Homo sapiens: one gene and its partners. Each later gene encodes a partner of the first gene's protein in a complex. Each region holds a gene or a part of one and is shown in the gene's direction. Other genes may lie near its edges. The genes, in order: SMIM20, TIMM21, CMC1 and COA1.

Region 1 (7,306 bases):
GAACCCTGTGCGATACACCACTGGCAGTCTGCTCCCTGCAAGCATTCAATCTTCACATCCAAGGGAAGAGGGAGAAAGTGCCAGAGAGGAGCCCAACCCAATTCTTCCCCCCAGTGATTGAGATGAAAATATGCACCCTAGGACTGCCGACATATCTGACTTGCATCCTGTCTCCCTACATCCCTGGAGCTCTCTCTCCCTTTACACAAATACGTTCCCCCAAACTCAAACTTCCTTTGCCTTTCCCAAACATTAGCACAGTGATGAAGCCCCAAGTGCTTTCATCCATGCCATGTGTAGGAGGTAATTGTGTTAATTTCTGTATCTATTAGCACTCCTGGTGGCATGCCACTGAAACTGACTCTAACTTAAGTCCAAAGGGACTTTATTGGAAGCATATGGGGTGGCCTGCAGAATATAATGAACGCTCAAGAATCAGACTGCAAGGGGAAACAACCAGGGAAGCTCCAGGATTACAGGCAAGTGGGAGGTATACGATGATCACATCAGAACATTAGCAATGGAAGACAGCTACTCCAACAATGCTGTCCGTCTTTGCGTCACTGTCTTCATCGTCCTTATTTCTGGGAGAAAAAGAACAATTGGACCAAATGATCCAGCTGGATCATCCCCACACCCAGGCAACCAAGCTCCCTGACATCATAAAACATTGTAGATTGGTGGTTAAGAGCAGTATCTGGAACTAGCCAGGCTCGGTTTGAATCCTGGCTCCACCATTTACCAGCCATGTGATCAAGTCATTCTCAGTATGCCCCAGCTTCCCCCTCTGAACATGAGGATACCTATCCATAGGTATTGGTGAGCACAAAGTGAGCAAACCTGTGATACTGACTATAGAGGGCAAGTGTTCTACAAATCTTGATGTTAGCATTGATTAGGAATACACAAGGCCCCTGAAATTGCAGTCTATCCAAAAATGCCAAGATAAGAGGTCATTCTCCAAAAGACATCAGTTTTTATCAAGGCACAGTGGGTGGCCAAAAAACAATTACTATCCTCTACTACATCTTATCCCTCCACCAGACTGTGGACACCATGAGGACAATAGATTCTGCTGTTTTCCTCACCGCTGTGTTCACCAGCACCTGAAAAGCATCTGGCATATTGTGCCTGGCTCAATGAACCATTACTGAATTCACAAATATTGAATGATTCCTTCTGTGTTCCCAATCAACTAGTACAATGTTTTGCATGGGAGTAGGCACACAATAAGTATTTGCTGATTTAATTGATAGGTCAGAGGGAAAAGAAAAACTGGAGGAGTGTGGTTTTCTCAGAAATGGGGAAAACACGGGAATCAAAGAGATGAGCTTGCATTTGGCAGGACTCAGTGGCAAGTAAGTGATAGGTAACTGTTTTCTGGTGTGTTGATGTCAATTACCTATACAAATGATCTAGATGGCCTAATCATTTCTGCTGGTCAACTAACGCCTTTAGATCAGCATCAAGGAGACAAGAGAAACCACGAGTCACTTGGCACATCACCTTGGAGAGGGAGAGGCTCATCTGCCACAATGGACTTGTCCTTGCCTTAGAGGCACTCCCAGTACCTCATCACGATGCTCTGTTCTCCTGGCAACGCTCCTTACTGGCTTGCAGGTGCCCGTGAGCAGGGCTTGGCTGGCCATCCTGCCAAGCTTGCTCATGGAGACAGCAAGATCTCATGGAGGAGCATTTCAGATCAGACATCACAAGAGCTAAGACCTCGGCCAATGCTGTGTGACCTCAGGAGAGTTCTGGTCTCTGGCTGTCAGTGACCAGATCTATAAAATAGAGTAATCCTTGCCTTGCAGCTCAGTAATCCTTGCCTTGCAGCTCCAAGTGGAGTCACATCCTCAGAGATTTTATCTGGAACTCCTTCTGTTGTAAAAGACAGAACCCAACTCAAACTGGCTTCAGAGAAAGGGGGACTCTATTGCTCATGTTACTGAGCAGTCTAGGGGTAGAGCTCTTCTGAGATACAGCTGGCACAAATGCAACACTAGCATCTGATTTCTCCCCACCTCTCAGCCCTCCTTCTGCTGTACTGACTTCCTTTTCAGTTCCTAAATGATGGCCCCCAGTAGCTCGAGTCTCATTCGCTCAAGTTCAAATCCAACTTTCCAGTAGCTGGAATAGACTATGGTTGGCTCAGCTTGGGTCATGTGGCCAGGAGGATGCAACTACATTAGGTGTTCAGGACTGACTCCTAATCAATACTAACCTCAAGACTGAGTCCTGGGTGCCAACCAATCCCTGTGACGAGGAAGCTTGGTCAGGCCCTTATGCTTAACTTTCAGAGCTGGGAAGAAGTAGGATGAGGATGGGGAGTCCTAGGTTATCTCATGGACCAAGAGTGGGAAAAGAGTGGGTCCCAGAAAGATACTTGGGGTACTATTCACAGAAAAAAGGGAAGTGGCCACAGGGCTGATAAAACGACGATGCCCACTACACCTGGGTATTTTCTTTCTTTTTGTTTTTTGTTTCTTTTGAGACGGAGTCTCACTCTGTCACCCAGGCTGGAGTGCAGTGGAGCGATCTCAGCTCACTGCAAGCTCTGCCTCCCAGGTTCCAGCTATTCTCTTGCCTCAGCCTCCCAGGTAGCTGGGACTACAGGCGTGCACCACCACGCCCGGCTAATTTTTTTGTATTTTTAGTAGAGACGGGGTTTCACCATGCTGGCCAGTCTGGTCTCGAACTCCTGACCTCATGATCCACCCACCTCAGCCTCCCAAAGTGCTAGGATTACAGGCGTGAGCCACTGTCCACAGCCCTCACCTGGGTATTTTCTATCGTGTGATATAAAGCTGGTGTCACAGTTCCCTCTGTGCTATGAAGTCTTCTGTCCTCATCCTAACAAGCTCCTGTAAGTGCCCGAGGAGCAGCTGCCACACTGCAGTCATCTGTCTTCCTCCTCTGAATTTCTGTAGCCCGCAGGACCATAACACGTGTCGGCAGCACGCAATGTCGGTCATTAGTTATCTTTTTATGGATATGTTCTATCTCTTCATCTATGCGACAGGATCCTAGAGAGCAGGGGTCACATCTTATTCATCTTTGTGTCCCCTTAGCACTCTGCCTGGTGTTTGGGGCATGGCAGATAGTCCATGAATCTGGGGAGAGATTGAATAACTGATTTACATGCTTCTAGAGCCACAGAGGTAGACAGTAGCTTGATGCAACTACAAGATTACAAAGAAAGAGGAAACCTGTCCTCTCCAAGCTATTTTGAAACGCTTGTAGATCTGTTGTGGCCTAAATAATGCTGCTAGGGTCAAGACAGATATCCTCTTTGCTCCCCAGGCCCAGCTGCTGGCATGATTCCTATTTATAAAGGCATGGAGGCCCAAGGAATCTGTGTCTCAGCTGCCCAGTATCCCTGGGCAGGTCATAGTCAGGCACAGCCCACTTGTAAGGGCAGTGTGGTGCAGAGGGCGGAGGATGGCAACTTGAGGAGGAGGAAACAGGTATCTGTTCTCGGTGGCCCCCACCCAGACAATACGGAAGCGCCCCGTGGCCCCATGGATGGGACCGGATGCTGGCTCTCTGCCTTGGCCAAGGCATCCCAGCACAGGGAACAGGGAGAGAGGATGGGATGGAGGGAGAGAGGATGGGATGGAGAAAGAGAGTAGCTCGGATGCTGAAACAACGTTCCTCCTAGGCTAGTCTTGGTGCAGAAGCCCCGCAGCTCCGGTTTTAGAATCCCCCAGCAGGCCCTCTCGGGCCAGAGATTTGCCCCTTTGTCTCTGATACGTACAAACCTCCCTCAAGAAGGACGAGTGACTCGTCCAAAGCCGCGCAGCGGAGCCGCGGTTCCCTCTCCTGTAAACTAAGCAGACTGATAAAAGGATTAATTGCGCGAGCGACAGAGAGCATCTGGCGCACGGCGGACAGTCGCTAATTAAGAAATTAACGGGGGATGGACGAGAAAGCTGGCTGGTAAAGAAGGCGATGGTAAAGGAGGTCTGGAGGGTGCTGAGGGAGGAACCGGGCCGAAGGAAGGAAAGTAGACAGAACAGGGCCCGCGGGAATCGAGTGCAGCAAAACAGCTCCAACCTCAATCCAACGCCAGCGCCCGGCCCGCACAGCACGGAATCCCGGGGAAGGCGGAGGGCGGGGTCCGAGGCCCCGCCTGTGACCCCACCCCTTTCCTGGCCCCGCCCCCAGCCTTGAGGCCCCGCCTCTGACTCCACCCCTGTCTCTTTCTCCGCTCCGCCCCTCCTCCTCGTCCCTCCCTCAAGGCCCGGAAGCGAAAGCCTCTCCACCTCTTCCGAGCGGGGTCACGGCCCGGCCGTCGGTAACCTGGTTTCCGAGAGTGCCGGGCGGTCGGCGGGTCAGGGCAGCCCGGGGCCTGACGCCATGTCCCGGAACCTGCGCACCGCGCTCATTTTCGGCGGCTTCATCTCCCTGATCGGCGCCGCCTTCTATCCCATCTACTTCCGGCCCCTAATGAGATTGGAGGAGTACAGTGAGTGATCTCTAACCCCTTGCGGTGACCTGACTCCCCAACACACACACCTCCCCTCTGTGAGCTCCACGTGGTGCCGTGGAAAGAACTTGGCTCGAGGGTTAGGGAGAGCCGGGTTCGAATCCTGCCATGTGCAGCTTTGTGACCGTGGACAAGTTGCTCAACCTCTAGGACTCTCAGTATCCTCATCTGTGAATGTTTGTGGCTACGTCATCTATGCTAAAATGCCGAGCCTCCTGTGAGACTCAGGTGATCATGTATATGAAAGCAGTCCTCACATAAGTCGACGCTAAGTACCAGTTCATATTTACAGTTAAAATTCACTGAATGCCTATTACACGTCAGGTTAGGCATATGTTGGATCGTTTCATTTGCACAAGCTCACCTTGAAGTATATATGTAAAACATGCCCATTTTACAAATGAGGGAACTGAGAGGCTCAGAGGTTTTATAACGTTCCCAAGGTCACACAGCAAGTAAGTGACAAGGCAAATATATCCAACCCCAGGCCTCTGTCCAGAGCCTCCTCCAAGCACCCAGGCTGAGAATGGTGACTGGGGGAGCCAGATGGAACCCTGATCCTTCTGAGTGGAAAGGTGCTTTTACTGCACTTCATTTCCACTCCCCAAGATGTTTTTTGAGTGGGACTGTTTCAAACCCAAACTGTTAACCTGGGGTTTGTAGTGTTTTCTCTTCTTTTTCCTCAAATTGTTTTTCCGATTCTGCTTGTTTCCTTCGTTTTAAGCCGATTGCTCACATGGTAATGGTGAAATCCTGGGAGTAATTTTCCTTCTTAATCATTCCAGTCCTATCATTCTAAAAGCCAAACTCTTCTTCCTTGAGACCTATACCTCAGCAAGGATTAGCACTTTGATACATCTGAAACCATCTGTCAGACAGAAAATATTAGGCATTAGAGGCTCATTTTGTTCACCAGGAAACCCGAATCATCTTGAAGATGGAAGAGGGCCAACCCTGTCCCTTGGGAATATTAACGGACACTGAAAGCTTGGCGAATTGAAGGCGAAAGCTCCGTGTAAATGTTCTGCCCATTACAAATGTTGCAGCAGTCGATTTCTGGAGGCAGAGCGTTTTAAGTGCACACTCAGATTTCCTTGTAGCTTCTTTTCATTAGCCAAGACTGAAATGGCCACTGTGTTCTGCCTTCCAGCTTATCTGCATGCACCATGCGTGGGAGTAAGGTGGGCTGTGTGAAGCCCTGCGGGATCTGTTTCCACCATCCTTCTTCAGCGGACGCCTGCCCCAGCGATTATATTGAGGCCACTAGAACTTGGGACAAAGGGTCTGCTTTGCATCCCATTGGAAAAGTCAGTTCTGAAAACTAGAGCTGTGGTTCTCATCTAGGGGTGATTTTGCCCCGCAGGATATTTGGCTCAATCTGGAGACATTTTTGCTTGTCACAACTTGGGATGGGGCGGGGGGGGGGTCGAGTGTTGCTACTGGTTTCTTGTGGATAGATGCCAGGGATACTGCTAAACTTTTTGCAGTGCATACAAGACAGACCCCCATGACAAAGAATTACCCAGCTTAAAATTCGAGTGGTGCCTTGGTTGAGAAACCCTGCTTGAGATGAAATGGTCAAGATGGGGACTTGTACTGTGTATCCCAGCAACAGTCTTTTAGGGATACTCCAGAATCTGTGGTTGTCTGAATGTCTTGAGACAGACAAATCAGGTGATGTTCATCTGTGGGTGAACATTTAGTGAATGTAACTATAATATCTGCATTTTTAACTAGAAGGCAGGCAGTCTGTGCCTTCCCACTTTTCTGGTTCCTTTTTGTTTTTTTTTCTTTTTTTCCGCTGTCACCCAGGCTGGAGTGCAGTGGCCTGATCTCGGCGCACTGCAGTCTCCATCTCCCAGGTTCAAGCAATTCTCCTGCTTCAGCCTCCTGAGTAGCTGGAATTACAGGTACCTGCCACCATGCCCAGCTAATTTTTGTATATTTTAGTAGAGACAGGGTTTCACCATGTTGGCCAGGCTGGTCTCGAACTCCTGACCTTAGGTGATCCACCCGCCTTGGCCTCCCAAAGTGCTGGGATTATAGGTGTGAGCCACCACGCCTGGCCTCTGGTTCCATTTTGATTAATTTGGCCAACTCTTTTCTGGGGATCGTAACTGATTCTTTTTTCTGAGACAGTCTCCCTCTGTCGCCCAGGCTGGAGTGCAGTGGCATGATCTCGGCTCACCGCAACCTCTGCCTCCCAGGTTCAAGTGATTCTTGTGCCTCAGCCTCCCAAGTAGCTGGGAATCCAGGCATGCACCACCAGTCCTGGCTAATTTTTGTATTTTTAGTAGAGACAGCATTCTGCCATGTTGGCCAGGCTGGTCTTAAACACCTCACCTCAAGCGATCCTCCTGCCTCAGCCTCCCAAAGTGCTAGTGTTACAAACTGACTGCTGTAACATTTGTAATGGGCAGAGCGTTTACACAGCTTTCGCCTTCAGTGCCAGCAACTGATTCTTTTAAACAGGTAAATATTGCTGAACAGGTAATATTTGTGGGAAGTTTACTATATGTTTGGCACTCTTCTAAGCACTTCCTATATATTAACCCATTTAGTGTTGATAACAGCCCTTTGTGGCAGCTGCTATATGATCATCATCCCCATTTTATATGTGGACAAACTGAGGTGTGAAACAGTTAAATTACTTACACAAGGACCTACAGCTGATGAGTCACAGATCTGGGACTTGAATTAATATCCTTAATCCCTAAACCAAGACAGCATACTGCTTGTCTAAGGGGGCAAGAAAAGGCAATGGGGGAGATGAGTGTCTGCATAGCCTACTAGATGAATGACCCTCATCTAAGTTAC
Region 2 (2,550 bases), on another chromosome or scaffold:
GAATGGCGTGGACTCGCTACTCCGTTCTTCACAGCTGCCTTCCAGAATGTGTTCAAAAGAAAGACAAGAAGGAGTGTATGGCTTATAAAGTGAATCTAATACAGTATTTGTTGCATTTAAACAAACTAGACATTTTCTTACGGAAAAATTATGAAATACAGCATATTTTATGTTCTCCCATTGACTCAATCATGACAATATTTCTGCTTTAACACCATCTTTCATGATTAGAAATGTTTGTTATTGGAAATGTTACACCATGTAAATAAAGGAAATAGATTTTAGTATTGTATTCATTTTATATTATAGAACTGCATAATGTCTGCAGAATAAAATTAAAACTAACAAATATGTCATTAGCAGCTGCCCTCCGCATACTTTGGAATCTGACTTGAGATAAGCATGTGAAAATGGTTGAGGGCCATAGGGAACCAGATGGTAAATACATTCTTCAAAATTGTGTGAGTTTTAGGAATCTGTCTCATATTTCGCGCTTCATGAATTAAGGGCCTAGTACATAGCGGGAAAAGTACACACTCCCAAGTTGGGTAGACCTGGGCACCCACCCCACCTTTTCTAGCAGGTGCGTGGTCAAGTGTCCCTGTTGTGTGGGTTGTTAGGATGGCAGTGTGATGAGAGGTACAAGCCTGGACCATAGAAGGCAGCCATGAAGTGCCCTCATCCCCTTTAGAACTTACTTGCACTGATACTTCTGACTGCCAAAAGAACATGGGAGTGAATGAGAGACATTCAAATACGTGTGTGAGGCCCCTTAAAGAAAAAAAAAAAAAAAAAGGAAATTCTATTTTATTTGAAATATTTGCTGGGGATTTGGAAAAAAGTGACCTTCACTTACAAGATCCTGATTCCATATCTATGTAAGTGCTATGTGCATTGGGAGGGGTCTAGAACCATGTTTATCTGCGGTGGCTTCAGTGTGAGGTATCCCCTCTGATGTGTTTGTTCCTTCTCCCCGAGAACTGTCTGTAGAGGAATTTCTGATGTGTTCTTGAAATTTTGGGATATTCAGGATAGAGAGACCTCCAGGCAATCTATCTCCCCTTTTTACTTTATCTCCCTGCTTAATTTAGTTAGTTTCTTGGTTTGACTGCTTGTTTTAGATGTTTTTAATTATAAAAATTTCCAACATTTAAGGAGTATAGAAAATATAACAGACACTCGTCTCCCTGACGTAACACACTTTGACTGAATGAGGCCTTAACTTAGGCTTTCTCTCCTAATCGTTTTTTCCTTTGCTATAGAATGTTCAGTTTCAGGATTCACTGAAATGTCAACATTTAACAGGCTGAGAAGTTCCACTTGCTATCCTAAACTCAAAAAAGCAGCCCTGCTCTTCAAACAACCTGCTCAAACTGTAGCTTGCTGAAGAAGCCCGGCATCTGAGCTCAGGTGGGGATTTAGCCACCCTCCATGGCCCTGTCATTTGACTTAAGACTGTTTGCTTTTTCTGTATTCATTTTTATGCACCTGCCATTTTACAATATGCTCATGCCCCTTTAAGATCTGAGCTTTTGGCCAGGCGAGGTGGCTCATGCCTATAATCCCAGCACTTTGGGAGGCTGAGGCAGGTCAATCACTGGAGGTCAGGAGTTCAAGACCAGCCTGGCCAACATGGTGAAACCCTATCTACTAAAAATTCAAAAAAAAAAAAATTAACCAGGCACGTTGACACACTCCTGTAATCTCATCTACTCAGGAGACAGGAGAAGCGCTTGAACCCAGGAGGCAGAGGTTGCAGTGAGCCAAGATCATGTCACTGCACTCCAGCATGAGTGACGGAGTGTGACTTCGTCTCAAAAAAAAAAAACAAAAAACAGATCTGAGCTTTTATAATTAGAAATAAAACTAAATTACTTTTTCAAAAGGAAAAACTCTGTACCAATAAGAGATTCTTCTGTATAGCCACAGGAAAATGTGATGTGTAACTCTCTAGATCTCTGTTTTCATTCCCTCTGATGTACCCTACTAAATGTTAAAATTTCTGTGTTTTAAGACCCTCTTTAATCCACTTTGATTGTGGTGTCTCTGTCCATGGGCTTACTCCCACTTTTTCTCTGAATTCTAGGGCACTTATCTGACTCTGCCTGGTATCCCCTTCCGTCATATTTGTGAATTTGCAAATGCTCTGGTCATTTTCCTCCAAGGCCTCTGTCATTCCTCCACACCTGATCAGTGAACTCTTTTCACAACTAACTCTAGAGCAGACTCTCCTGTCACTGTTTGCTCTTCCTCCTTAATGAAGAAATTATATGCAAGGCAAGAGTTTATCAGAAGTTCTGCTTTTAGCCCCGTGAGATTTCCAGCCTAACTACCCTGCAAGCTCCCTTCATAACTATTGTTGATCAATGCTAGTAATACTTTATCCATTTATTTCCATTTGGTAAGCCATTACAATATTACTTCTGTTTCTCTTATTCTCATCCAGAGACAGTTCCCCAATTCCTAATTCATAGATTTCTACTCAGGGTTACACTTACTATTTATTTTATATAGTACCACTCATGTGTTCCATCTGTTAGATTTCATGCA
Region 3 (7,041 bases), on another chromosome or scaffold:
GTCCCAGCTACTCAGGAGGCTGAGGAATGAGAATTTGAGCCTGGAAGGCAGCGGTTGCAGTGAGCCGAGGTTGCGCCACTGCACTCCAGCTTGGGCCACAGAGTGAGACTTCGTCTCAAAAAAAAAAAAAAGAGGAAATAGGGATAATTCCAGTTTTTGTACGTCAGCAGCTGGGTGGAAGGTCATGGTCAAATCTAACAATGTGATTATTGGAAACTTCATCAAAGGAAGGAATGGAAGCAATGGAGAGTAAAAAAGTGGAGTCAGCAAGTAGGAAGGTTTTTTTTTTTTTCCCTAAATTGTTTTGTCTGTTTAAATTCCAGAATAAAATGTATGGAAGCCAGTTTTTTTTTTTTTTTAATTTCGTGTTTATTTGGTTCATACGTTGAAGCTTAGTTTCACATTTTGATGTTTTACTGCTTTGTACAGCCCACGATGGTATTTGCCCATATTGAGTAAGTGAATAATAGATACACCAATTGAGGTTCATTTAGCAAAATCTGTTTTCCTATTGGTTTATTTTGTATTTTCTGTGATCTTTATAGAAGCTTGATTTTCATTTGGCAGCAACTTTTAATTAACTTTGTAGGGTCTCTGTTTTCCTCAAGAAACTGTGAACCCAGCGAAAAAATGCAGGTTACATGCTTATACATAGTTTTATTTACATTATTTTCCTTTTTTTTGTTAATGTAGCAGTAATAACAGCAATCTTTGCTTATTGCCATGTTCCGGACAAATTTTCAGACATGATTATATTCTCAGATGATGGCCCATAGGAACCTGCACCTGATAAATTTGATTTTTCACTTTCTCTATCAACTAAAGTAATTCCTTTCTCCCTTCTTTGACCTTTCCCCTTTTTAGTTAGGTTCTCTTCCCTCTGTCAACATAGATTCATTCTCTACTTATGCAGAATGGGGCATGGCAGCCTAAGGGAAGTTTCCTTAATCAGGTGTGTGTGTGTCCCTGTGTCCTTCTATTGCTGTTTTTTTCCGGGAACTTAATAAAAGGAGGAAGATGGGACAGAGATAGGGCTTAGGGGGTGGAAAGTGGGTTCAAGAATTTCATGACATTCCATGAGAAGGTGTTTAAGGTATATGTGTCTTGGGAAGATTTAATTATGGATGTTCTTGGAACATTTGGGTTGCAGTACTCCAAGTTGGGGTTCTTTCAGTGGTTCCTGTGGGAATGTAGGTAAATTACCTTTAGGGGTACAGGAACAGTACTAGCCCTTACATTTACTAGAAAATTTTAAGTTAGACATGTAAACAAACTTGAAGAATCTTTTTTGAGCATTGTATGTTTAATATGTAAAAGGTTGTGGAGTTGATTAGAAAAATTTTTTATTTTTTTTAGTGATGGGGTTTCACCATGTCGCTTAGGCTGCACTTGAACTCCTTGCTCAGGAGCACTTGAACTCCTGGGCTCAAGTAATCTGCCCACCTCGGCCTCCCAAAGTGCTGGGATTATAGGCATAAGCCACCCTGCCTGGCCTATAAGAAAAATTTTGATTTTATTATTGCCGCCATATCTCTAGAGTATCTTCTTAGACATAAATTACGTTGGTGGCTCAGAACAAAAAAAAAAAGACCTAACATCTACATTTTGTATATTTATAAATTAAAAGCATATTTGCCATAGAAAATACATTATTTTTGTCTCATCGGATTAACAACTCTCTGATGGTTGCTCTGTGAAATTTGAAAAACACAGGCTTAAGCAAAGACAATAAGAAAGAAGAATTGAGATCAAAGAGGAGTATGTGCCATGGCAGTGGGTTGGGGGTTGGGATTTCAGTTTTGAAGCATGAAATGATCTGTAAACCATTTCAAGGATTTTGAATTTTATACTAAGAACAATGGGAAGACACTGCAAGTTTTTAGGTAACGGAGTGACAAACAGAACTCTCCTTATTTTGTGTTGATCTGACTTTTGTTTAGATCAAGAATAACCTTGATCTCAGCCACATACTGCATACATGATGTGTCTTTCCAGAGTATCCCATCTGGAGGTACATGGGTATCTGTCTCTCGTAGGTGATGTTAATTTTGATTACCCACTCAAGGTTTTGCCCTGTTTTGTTGCCGTATTTTCTCTGTTTTGCAATTAGTAACTAATCTGTGGGAAGGTTAAGACCTTGTAAATATTTGCTTCTCATCAAATATTTCTCTTTGATTTGGGGTCCATTGATTTTTTTTTTTTTTTTTTTTACCTGATTCAGTCTTTCCCATAATGGTTGCAAAATAATGATTTTCTACCTCCAGCACACTCCCTTCACATTTACTAGATGGTTGTTGACATTTTACTGTAAGCAAGAGATTGCTTTGTTTCATTTTCATTGATTTATGAATTTATTATTGGTATTTTTGGTAAGGACTCATGAACTGCTGTATTTTCAATCGTTTGTACTCTGTTAATGTACATAAGTATTTTTTGTGTTCAAATTTCCCCAGATTTGGCCAGAGTTCCCTTTAAGCTAGCTTCTGGATCTTTGTCATATACTCTCACCATTTTTTTGAGCATTTCCTTTTTATTCCCTCACACAAGGTATCACTGCTTCATCTTGTACCTACCCTGGCCAATCCATACAATTAGTTATTTCTCTGAGAAGCCCTGGTTCCTTTTATTTGGGCACAGTATTAGAGAGTAAGAGCTGGTCACTAGAACTGCATGTAATTTGGGTGGTTTATTAATAGATTGCCTTTAGGAAAAGAAAAAAAAAACCCTTAAGAGAGTAAGGAAAATAGGAGACGGGAGGGGAAAAATCTGAGCAAGGATGTGGTTTCAGGTCTTAACCTAATCAGCTCTGGTGTACCACATGGTACATACAGTTTATTGTGCCTTGGAGGCAAGGGAGCTGGGCTTTCATGCCCTTTTTCAGTCATTGGTTACTGTAGTAGTTGGGAGAGGGACAGCAGCAAGGAAAACAGCAAAGGGCTACCATGGCCAGGGGCAGTCCTGAGAAGGTTGCAGATGTGAATGCTCCAACATTCTCTGCTGCAGGAGGGATACCAGCTCTATCCTAAAAATAATTTATCTGAATCTGTTAGGAATCTTAGTTGGATAGTAAGAGTTTTGATAGTAGTGAGAGTTCAGATAGTGACAGGTCAGATAGGAATGGGTACTTGCACACATGTATACATACACACAGGTGTGTGTACTGCATCCAGTAAAGTGTCACAGGTTGTGGTTAACAAGTTTGAATAACACTGGCTTAAGATATACCTAAGGTAGGCTAAGCTGTACTTTTTTTTTTGTCTTCTAGGCCATCGTACATGCTGTTCTCTCTAGAATTTCTCCCATCTTCCCTATCCCCAGGTCTACTGAATTCTTGTTCATTTTTCACAACTCAATTTAAAATCAGTTTCTTAGGAGAGTTTTCCTGATTGCCACCACCTCCAGTTAAACATTTTTTTTTAAGGTTTAGGATTAAAAACTCCACCAAAATATCATATAACCTATGTATAGAGTTGTTTTCCTTTTAGATATAAAATCCTTTTCTTTGACGAATAAAAGGAAACCTTTTATTCAGATATGATGCGCCTATATGTAACAAATAATTGGAGAAATAAAGAAAAACATAATTTGAAGAATGGGAATGTTCTACCTGTGTAATAAATAGTAAATATTTTTCATATGAATCCACCTCTTTAAATTCATTAGAGACCAGATAAAAGGATAGGTCAGTTAATTTCACCTAGATTATAGAAGATTGGCCACCTCCTCCCAGGGAGGTAGTGTACTGTTGTGGAATCAACACCGAATTTGGGAGTTAGTAAGACTGACTTATTGTCTCAGACTTTGTCATTAACCTGTCCTTAATGACATAATATGAGGTTTGAGGATGAGAAGTAGGGAAAGAGATGTATCAGATAATTGCTAAGGTTGCTTCAAGCCTTGAACTTTTATGATTCTAAATATTAATACTTGTCATAGGTCTCAAGGGGTTCTTGACTCCACACAGAAATAAATTCAAGTTTGTGTCTTGTTGCCTGGATTAGTATCTTTTTTAATTTTTTGTTTGGGGTGTTAAAATCATATGTGTAAAATTCTGTAGATGTCAAAAATATGAGAAGTATTACCTTGTACTTGATATAAGTGGACCAAACAAAATTGTGCCCAAATAAAACTATTGATACCCAAGTTAACATTCTCCCCGACAATCCTCTGTTCTATTTTTGCATTTTTTCTTTTTTTTTGAGACAGAGTCTCGCTCTGTTGCCCAGGCTGGAGTGCAGTGGCGTGATCTCAGCTCACTGCAAGCTCCGCTTCCTGGGTTTGTGCCATTCTTCTGCCTCAGTCTCCTAAGTAGCTGGGACTACAGGCGCCCACCACCATGTCCGGCTAATTTTTTTGTATTTTTAGTAGAGATGGGGTTTCACTGTGTTAGCCAGGATGGTCTCGATCTCCTGACCTTGTGATCTGCCTGCCTCAGCCTCCCAAAGTGCTGGGATTACAGGCGTGAGCCACTGCGCCCAGCCTATTTTTGCATTTTTAAGTAAGAAGATTGAAGGAAAAAATTGCTAAGAATGTGGTGTTTACCATCCTGCATTGTGTTTTGCTAAAGAACTGTTACTGGGAGATTCTTACAGATCAAAAGATATGTTAATTACCTAAACATGACTAATTGGAATGTAGAGTATCACATGTTTATGCTGCAGAGTAAGGAACCTTGCTTGACTGATTCATTATTGTATACACAATCCCTGGTGTGGTGATTGGTACATAATAGGTACATACGTATTTGTTTACAGTGTATCTGTAACTATCAAATACTAAAACTCTTTTAAATATACGTGTCATTTGTTAAACAGTTAAAACAATTTTATTGCATATTTACCATATGCTAGGAGTTAGAGGGAATTACAAAGATGAGTTAGACGTGGTCTCTGACCTCATTAAAGTTAACTTTTACTTGCAGTAGTTCTCAGTCTAGCTGCATATTATAATTATTTGGGGAGCCTTAAAAAATATCAATGCCTGGCTTTTACCCCAGCATTTCTGATTTAACTGGTCTGGGGTGGGGCCCAAGCATTAAGAATTTTGTACAGCCCTCTCAGGTGGTTCTTGGGTACAGCCAGGGTTGAGAGCTTCTGGTACCAAAATCTGTCTTAGTCTACTCAGGCTGCCATAACAAAATCCCATAGACTGACTTGAGTGACCCACACAACATAGACTGGGTGGCTTAAAAAATGTACATTAATTTTTTTTACTATTCTGGAGGCTAGGAAGTTCAAGACCAAGATTCAAGGAGATCTGGTTGCTGACAAGGACTCTCTTCCTGACTTGCAGATGGCTGCCTTCTCCCTGTGTGTTTACATGGCAGTGAGCGGGGAGGGATGGGGGAAGAGGAGGTTGAGGGAGGAGGAGGAGAGAACGAGAAGGAGAGAGAGCCCTCTGCTTCTTATGAGGCCACTAATCCTATCGAATTAAGGCCTCACCTTTATGACCGCATTTGACCTTAATTACCTCCCAAAAGCACTGTCTCCACATACAGTCACATTGAGGGTTAGGGATTCAACATATGAATTTGGAGAATGGTAAACACAATTCAACTCATGCCAACCACTGATCTAGCAGGAGAAGATTGGATATATAGTGTGATGTGATGTGTTTAAGTCCAGGTGTGATTATAGCAACAGAACGAGTGCAGGCAAAATCTTGGGGTTAGAGGAAGGAGAAATCACTTTTTAGTGCTGGAGGTCAGGAAGAACTTTGGGATGGAGAAATGTTGAATTGAGTTTTAAATAAGTAAACTTTGATAACAAAAAATAAGAGGTTGAAGATGGAAAATAAAGACTGAGATTGAACTAGAGTTTGGCTTTACCTGTTACTTGCCGGGTAATGCTGCAAGATTGCTTTGAGCTTTCTGAGTCTTAATTTCTTTGTATCTGCTTCTAAATGAGATGATGTTTGTAAACCAGTTCCATCCACCACCCTTTTCTTCTTTCTGTAAATATTTATCGTGTTGCTTCTGTGTACTATATAACTATAAGCCGATTTTTCAGGTAAGAAGGGTAACATAACCACTAGGTTGGCAAAATGAAGGTTTACATTGTAGGAAATTTAAGTTGGAATTGAGCTGCTGGTGGGACTTAGAAACCACCAGTAGATAGTTGAAAATGTGGAAAGTTGGAGATGGAGATGAGCACTGAGAACTCAGTATCATAAACACTATCTTTAAAGGTGGAACCTTGTGGGATTGCCCCAGGAGGATTAAGTACAGATATTACCTTGGAAGTGTGTATAGTTCTAGTATTGTTACCATTGTTCAGGATATTTTTGAAACTCCTTTAAGATTTCCCTTTGGATTCTTCAGTACACTCGTCTTAATATCCTCATTTTGGCAAATCTTTGTTCTGAAAGTTAATTTGAATTTCAGCCAAGGTTTAACCAGAGACAGTCTGGTGAAGGTGATAGACGATCATCCTGGGAAATGCTGCCTCTTCCCTTGTCTCAGTTTGTTTTATGTTGCTATAAATGAATACCTTAGGATGAGTAATTTATAAAGAAAGAAGTGTATTTAGCTCACAGTTCTGCAAGCTATACAGGAAGCATGGCATCTGCTTGGCTTCTGATGAGAACATTTATGCTGTGTCAGAACATGGCAGAGAAGATCAAAGGGGAAGCGGGCATGTGTGAAGAGGGACCAAACGTGAGAGGTGTCCTGACTTTTACAACAATCCAGTCTCTTGGGAACTAGTCATTTTCTCTGAGAACCAGCCCACTCTGAAGAACTAGTCCACTCCAGCAAGAGCAGGAATTCATTACTGCTAGAAGGGCACAAAGCTGTTCATGAGACATCTGCCCTCGTGTCCCAAACACATCCCATTAGGGACCACCTCCTTACACTGCCACACTGGGGATCAGATTTCAACATGAGATTTGGTGGGGACAAACCATATCCAAACCATATTGCTCCCACCCCAAAAAAGTTATATTATGGAACTGGTTTTCATGTTTACTTCAGATTAGCTCTGAAGCCATACCAAGAAAGATGATGTGATTTGAGCAAAGGCTGAGTCTTTGAAATAAGTGAAA
Region 4 (7,041 bases), on another chromosome or scaffold:
TATGGAGTTTTGTCTTTATTGATTTTTAGGAGTTCTTTGTGTAGGGATTTAAGCCATTGACTGTTAGATATGTGGCAGATATTTTCAATCTATTTAGTTAACTTTGTTTTATATTTTTTACTATATTGTTTTACATTTTTGTGTAGTCAGGACTTTGCCTCTAAAAGCCTTCTGGCTAATAGTTTAGGATATTGTTCTTTAATTATAGGAGTTATAGAAACTGACATAGTAGTTCCCAGTTAGTGTGACATCTGAGTCCCTGGTGGTATATTTAGCCTAAGAGTGTTCATTGTTTCAGACATTGTTGCCTCCCTGTCTCTCTGCCTTGAAAAATGTGCCATGATCTGCTTCAACTTTGTTCATTTAACTCTCTATTTTAAACAGACTCCAAGAAGTTATTCTTTTATCCTCTTGTTCATGTTTCATATGCTGCATTAGATTTGTGAGAGCCATATTGGACAGTTGGTCACCAAATAGTAGGTACTTTTTTCATACTAGCAGGCATTTATTTGAAGATTATTTAATGTATGCAGAGGTTGAGTGTAGCTATTGTGTTCTGTATTGTTTGGGGCATGTTGGAAAAAGTAGTTTTATAAAATCCTATTAACATTGTTTTGTATTTTTTTAATTTTGTTGGTTAAAAGGCAGTAGTAGTAATATATATAGTATATATATAATATATATATTTTTTGAGATGGAGTTTCGCTCTTGGTACCCAGGCTGGAGTGCAATGGTGCGATCTCGGCTTACTGCAACCTCCGCCTCCTGGGTTCAAGTGATTCTCCTGCCCCAGCCTCCTGAGTAGCTGAGATTACAGGTGACTGCCACCATGCCCAGCTAATTTTTTTGTTTTATAGTAGAGACGGGGTTTCACCATGCTGGCTAGGTTGGTCTGGAACTCCTGACCTCAGGTGATCCACCGCCTCGGCCTCCTAAAGTGCTGGGGTTATAGGCATGAGCCATTGCGCCCAGCCAGTAGTAAAAGTATTTTTAGAAACTGAGCATTTTGAGAATCTAAGGAAAGTGATATACAATAGCTTCCAGAAAAAAATTGCATCTCTCTGTTTACATATAATGGCCAAGATTTCATTCTTTCCCCTTGGCTTGATTCCAGTTAGAACTGTGTGTTTCTTGTTTCAGTGTTTTGTCTTTTCTTTTTTAAAATTGTGATAGAATATACATAACATAAAATTGGCCATTTTAACTATTTGTAAAGATACAGTTCAGTGCCATTAAGTACTTTAACATTGTTGTGTAACCATAACCACCATCTATCTCCAGAACACTTTTTTCTTTTTCTTTTTTTTTTTTTGAGATGGAGTTTCGTTCATGTTGCCCTGGCTGGAGTGCAGTGGCGTGTTCTCAGCTTACCGCAACCCCCACCTCCCGGGTTCAAGTGATTCTCCTGCCTCAGCCTCCCGAGTAGCTGGGATTACAGGCATGCGCCACCACACCTAGCTAATTTTGTATTTTTAGTACAGACGGGGTTTCTCCATGTTGGTCATGCTGGTCTTGAACTCTCGACCTCAGGTGATCTGCCCACCTCAGCCTCCCAAAGTGCTGGGATTGCAGGCGTGCGCCACTGCGCCCGACCCAGAGCACTTTTATCTCCACACACTGCACCCATTAAATGATAAATCTCCGTTCCTCCCTCTTTCCAGTCCCTGGCAACTACCATTATATTTTCTGTCTATGAATGTGACTATTCTAGGGTCCTCATAAAAGTGGAATCATAAAATATTTGTCCTTTTGAGTCTGGTTTATTTCATTTAGCATGTCTTCAAGGTTAATTCATGTTGTGGCATGTGTTGGAATTTTCATTTTTTTAAAGACTGAATAGTATTACATTGTATTCCATAGAACACATTTTGTTTATCCATTCATTAGTCGATAGATATTTGGGTTGTTGCCACCTTTTGGCTATTGTGAATAGTGCTGCTGTGAACATTGGTATACAAATGTCTGAGTTCCTGCTTTCAATTCTTTTTTTTTTTTTCTTTGAGATGGAGTCTTGCTCTGTCTCCCAGGCTGGAGTGCAGTGGTGTGATCTTGGCTCACTGCAACCTCTGCCTCCTGGTTCAAGTGATTCTCCTGCCTCAGCCTCTCGAGTAGCTGGGACTACAGGCGTGCACCACCACGCAGGCTAATTTTTATATTTTTAGTAGAGACAGGGTTTTGCTATGTTGGCCAGGCTGGTCTTGAACTCCTGACCTCAAGGGATCCGCCCACCTCAGTGTCCCAAAGTGCTGGGATAACAGGTGTGAGCCACCGCGCCTGGCTGTGCTTTCAGTTCTTTTAGGTATACGTATCCAGAAGTGGAATTGCTGGATTGTAGGGTAATTCTGTTGATTTTTTTGAGGAACTGCCCGTATGCTTTAGTGTTTTTGTTATTTGCATAAAAGATGAGATTTAAAGGAATTGTGTAATTTAGGCATGGATTATCACGTTTACCTTTCCAAAGGACTATTTCCTACTTGAAGGGGTGTAGGTGTTTTTGTATTAGGACTTGGAGATCTTTGAGTTTTAAAATTATTGCAATTCAGACTAAATAAAAAGTTTATCATGGATAGTTTTCCAAATTGTAAACATCTCTATGATCCAAGATTTTTTGGTTTTTGTTTTTTGAGACAGGGTCTCACTTTGTCACCCAGGCTGGAGTGCAGTGCCATGAACATGGCTCAGTGCAGCCTTGACCTCATGGGCTCAAGTGATCCTCCTGCTTTAGCCCCTCAAGTAGTTGGGACTACAGGCACATGCCACCACGCCGGGCTAATTTTTATATTTTTTGTTGAGATGGGATTTTGCCATGTTGCCCAGGCTGGGCTCAAACTCCTGAGCTCAAGCGATCCGCCCACCTCAGCCTCCCAAAGTGCTGGGATTACAGGTGTGAGCCACCTTGCCTGGCCTTTTTTTTTTCTTAATGCTTTCTGTGTTTTTAGTCTTTTTGGGGAAATTACCCATCATGACAGACTCTAAAATGGAGGTGAGTTTGCAAACTTGTATAGTTCCAAAAGTCTGTGAATTATTCCGGTATCATACTACTGCTCCATTTGGATGCTTTGGCAATTACCCTGGTGTGCTGTGACTATTGCTGCTTCTGACAGGCAAGTTTACCTCCCTCAATGCAAATATAACCATGTCATTAGTTGAAGATTAGGAGATGACCAGCATTATTCTCTTTTACGACTGTATCATTCTTTTTTCAACTATTCTCCTGTTGTTGGAACTGCAAATTATTGTGGGTACTGCAATCCATTTGAATAGCTGTGACCTCCCAGGGATCACTGGGAAAATGTAGAAAAACAGACAACAGTGTGGCTCAACCAAAACTTAGAAAACTAAGATTGCATGTAGCTGCCAGATCCTGGGAACAGGATGGCTTAAGGGCAGCCCTAAGGGATAAAGGGTAGAGGATTATATGTGTTACACCCTTTCTACCAACCTCTCCCTCCCATTGCAACAGCTTTCATAAGGTCTCAGTTTAATATTTCATTATTACTTTACAACCCATATCATTTTATTAACAGCAAGTATATTATCAGGAGAGATGGGAGGAACTGGTATCTTAATGTGACTTTTGCTCTTAGTTTGGGTCTCTGTCATTTGGACTCTGGTGATCTTTTATCTTGTGGGCTCTTGGTGCCTTAAGACATTTGGCATTTGCAAATGTACTGGAAAGGTCCCCAGATGGACTTAGATGTTCCAGATCTCGTGGAACTTTGATGTCACTTGCATTCATAAGTGATCTAGCAAATACCAAGATTACATAGATGCCAAGCACCCAACTTTCCCTGTTTATGCACCAGCTTTTTGAGGGAGATGAAATGCAATCACATAAAGAATGTACTAGCTGGGCGTGGTGGCTCATGCCTGTAATCCCAGCACTTTGGGAGGCCAAGGCAGTCGGATCACTTGAGATCAGGAGTTCCAGACCAGCCTGGCCAACATGGTGAAACCCCGTCTCTACTAAAAATACAAAAATTAGCTGGGCGTGATGGCATGTGCCTGTAGTCCTAGCTACTCGCAGCTGGTACGAGGCACAAGAATCTCTTGAACCTGGGAGGCAGAGGTTGCAGGGAGCTGAGATTGTGCCATTGCACTCTAGCCTGGGCGATAGAACGAGACTCTCGTTTTGTCGTAGGGAAAAGCATTTCCTAGCCAGGCGTGGTGGCTCATGCCTGTAATCCCAGCACTTTGGGGGGCCAAGGTGGGCAGATCACTTGAGTCCAGGAGTTTGAGACCAGCTTGGGCAAAGTGGCGAAACCCCATCTCTCTACTAAAAATACAAAAGAACTAGCTGGGCATGGTGGTGCACACCTTTGGTTCCAGCTGCTCAGGAGGCTGAGGTGGGAAGATCACCTGAGTCTGGGAGGTCGAGGCTGTAGTGAGTTGCAGTGGCGCCACTGCACTCCAGCCTGAGTGACAGAGTGAGACCCTGTCTCAAAAAAAAAAAAAAAAAGTTACCAGAATCAACGGTGAATGTCCTAACTTTTGGTTATAGATTGTTCCTCTCATTGAAATGTTCTGTGCTAGGGGCAAAGATTGACTTCTGGTGTGCAATGGTAGTCTTTAGAAACACTTCTACATCCATATTTAAGTATGTCAGCATGCAGTATTACATTAGAATCTTTCTAATGTTTTTTGGGCTTCAAGCCTTTGAGCTATAAGTAGCAAAACTTTGAAATTTATGTGAATACTTTCACATTATAACTTACGACTTTTCCCATGGTACTGAGTATTTGTATTCTCTTACCTTGTTTTTTTTTTAAATTACCGTACAGTAAAATAAACTTTTTATATTATAAATTTTAACCCATGTACTGATTTCTATAACCAACACCATAGTCAGGATGCAGAATAGTTGCCTCACCTCAAAAACTCCCTAGTGCTATCTCTTCATGGTTAAATCTTCCCCTTACCCAAATAACCAAAACCAAAAAGTAAATGCCATTTTGTGTTTTTATTGTGGGAAGCAGTTACATTACATCCTTGCTTTTCCTCTTTATTAGGGATTTAATCTAAGCATGTTGGGCTAGAAAGGATAAAGTCAACAGTCTCTTCATTTTTTTTTGAGAAATTCATAAACTTTCTCATGCATTTAGTGTTTAGGAATAAAAACATTTGGCTAGTTATCTCTTCCAACAGGTGGCAGTGTTGTGCTATATAATAGGATTTACTAATAAAGATTGTGGCTTTTTGTCAGCTGGACGATAATTGCTGTACATTTTTTACATCAGAAAATCAAGATGGTTAATTAAGAACTGACATTTAACTATTGAAATTATTTTTTAAAGTCTATTTCAAAATTCATCTTATTCTTGTAATGTTACTAGTAAAGCAGTCTATGGATAAAAGTATTCCTTAATACATTTGTATTTGTTTTCAGTGTTTGCAGAATTATGAATTAACTCTTTCCTTAAGGTTAACCTTTGTAGCGGGAATAACTCCAGTGTTGTGGATGAATCTGTGAGTAATAGAGGCTTATCAGTGTGACTTCAGATGTTTTATGTTTCAGCCTTCTCTATCACATGTAGGAATCCCTTTATAACATCTCTGGTAGTTGGTGGCATTGATCAGTAAATGGAGCAGCCATGGAAGAAAGATACAGGTTCTAATTGCCAGCATCCTGATTGTGAAGCCTTAATGGAGATGTTCAGTGAGAAATGATGAAGAGGAAGCTTGTGAGACATTTGCACTTAGGTGACTCATAGGTTTTCGAAGCTAACCCATCCAAAAAATGGATTCTCTTTTTCTTTATACTTCCAGCAACTTAATGTCTGGCAGTATATACTTCCCTAGGGACTGGGGCTGCCATTCATCCAGAGGCTCCTGAGTAATATCCAGGGTCACTTTAAGACCTCTCAGTGTTCTCTAAATTCTACCTCCTAAATATTTTCAAATATGGCCACTTCATCTTTACCTCTCTCGTTGCACAGAACAATGATTTTTCACCTAGATATACTGCTTCCTAATTGATCTGCCAGGATATATTATTACCCCTATTTTTCACACAGCAGCCATTTTTAAAAAATGTAAAATCTGATCATGTCACTCCCCATATTTTTATTCTTAAACAAGTTTGTGAGAAAGTTTGTAAGTTTCTGAAAAAAAAAGAAAAAGGAAGGGGACCATGTTGATTTTATCCTTTCTAGTCCATCATACTTAGATAAAACGCTTAATAAAGAGGAAAGGCAGGGATGCAACATTACTGCTTCCCACAATAAAAACACAAAATTATACTGAGCATTGGAACTCTTTTTTTCCTTTTTTTTTTTGACAGAGTTTTGCTTTGTTGCCCAGGCTGGAGTGCAGTGGTGCGATCTTGGCTCACTGCAATCTTTCCTCCCGGTTTCAAGCAATTCTCCTGCCTCAGCCTCCCGAGTAGCTGGGATTACAGGTGCCCGCCACCATGCCTGGCTAATTTTTATGATTTTAGTAGAGATGGGGTTTCACCATGTTGGCCAGGCTGGTCTTGAACTCCTGACCTCAAGTGACCCGCCCACCTTGGCCTCCCAAAGTGCTGGGATTACAGGTGTGAGCCACCATGCCTGGCCTTTTACTTTTTATTTTACGTAGAATAAACCCCAAATATTTAACTTGACCCACAACATTCCTCCCTCCTCCCTGTTCTGTGATGTGGCCTCTCTTCTTTCTGTTATAGTCTCATCTCATGCCAGTTTCCCCTTGTTCACTGTGCTCCAGCTTCTCTGGTGTTCTCTTTGCTCCTTGATTGGAGGAGGTGGGGAGAATAGATTCAAGGAAACCTGTTTGTAAGCAAACATACATTTCAGGTAATGAAAACAAGGCTTAATACTATATTGAAATATGTGGGTCAGGGGACATTTTCATAGTAGTCAGGAAGCCATCCATCCCTTTGTCACTTTTCAACTCCTCAGACTGAATCTAGGGATAAATGCACACCTGAGTACAGATTCGGTGTGTGGGGAAAGTTATGTTCTAATAGAAAAGGAAATTTAGAACTCGACAGTGATTACCTGTAATACTGTTAGTTGTGGATAATCCTTTATATTTGGTAGCTCT

Evidence for each region.
Region 2: SMIM20 (region 1) and TIMM21 share a complex: the UniProt entries of both Homo sapiens proteins name them as parts of the MITRAC (mitochondrial translation regulation assembly intermediate of cytochrome c oxidase complex) complex.
Region 3: SMIM20 (region 1) and CMC1 share a complex: the UniProt entries of both Homo sapiens proteins name them as parts of the MITRAC (mitochondrial translation regulation assembly intermediate of cytochrome c oxidase complex) complex.
Region 4: SMIM20 (region 1) and COA1 share a complex: the UniProt entries of both Homo sapiens proteins name them as parts of the MITRAC (mitochondrial translation regulation assembly intermediate of cytochrome c oxidase complex) complex.

Annotation. Positions count from the first base shown.
Region 1 is NC_000004.12:25,909,955-25,917,260, forward strand, and holds the start of SMIM20 (small integral membrane protein 20), read left to right. Parts: upstream 1-4,265; 5' UTR 4,266-4,359; coding exon 4,360-4,468; intron 4,469-7,306.
Region 2 is NC_000018.10:74,158,503-74,161,052, forward strand, and holds the end of TIMM21 (mitochondrial import inner membrane translocase subunit Tim21 precursor), read left to right. Parts: 3' UTR 1-2,029; downstream 2,030-2,550. UniProt on the Homo sapiens protein: Participates in the translocation of transit peptide-containing proteins across the mitochondrial inner membrane.
Region 3 is NC_000003.12:28,244,609-28,251,649, forward strand, and holds part of CMC1 (COX assembly mitochondrial protein homolog), read left to right. Parts: intron 1-7,041. UniProt on the Homo sapiens protein: Component of the MITRAC (mitochondrial translation regulation assembly intermediate of cytochrome c oxidase complex) complex, that regulates cytochrome c oxidase assembly.
Region 4 is NC_000007.14:43,719,510-43,726,550, reverse strand, and holds part of COA1 (cytochrome c oxidase assembly factor 1 homolog), read left to right. Parts: intron 1-7,041. UniProt on the Homo sapiens protein: Component of the MITRAC (mitochondrial translation regulation assembly intermediate of cytochrome c oxidase complex) complex, that regulates cytochrome c oxidase assembly.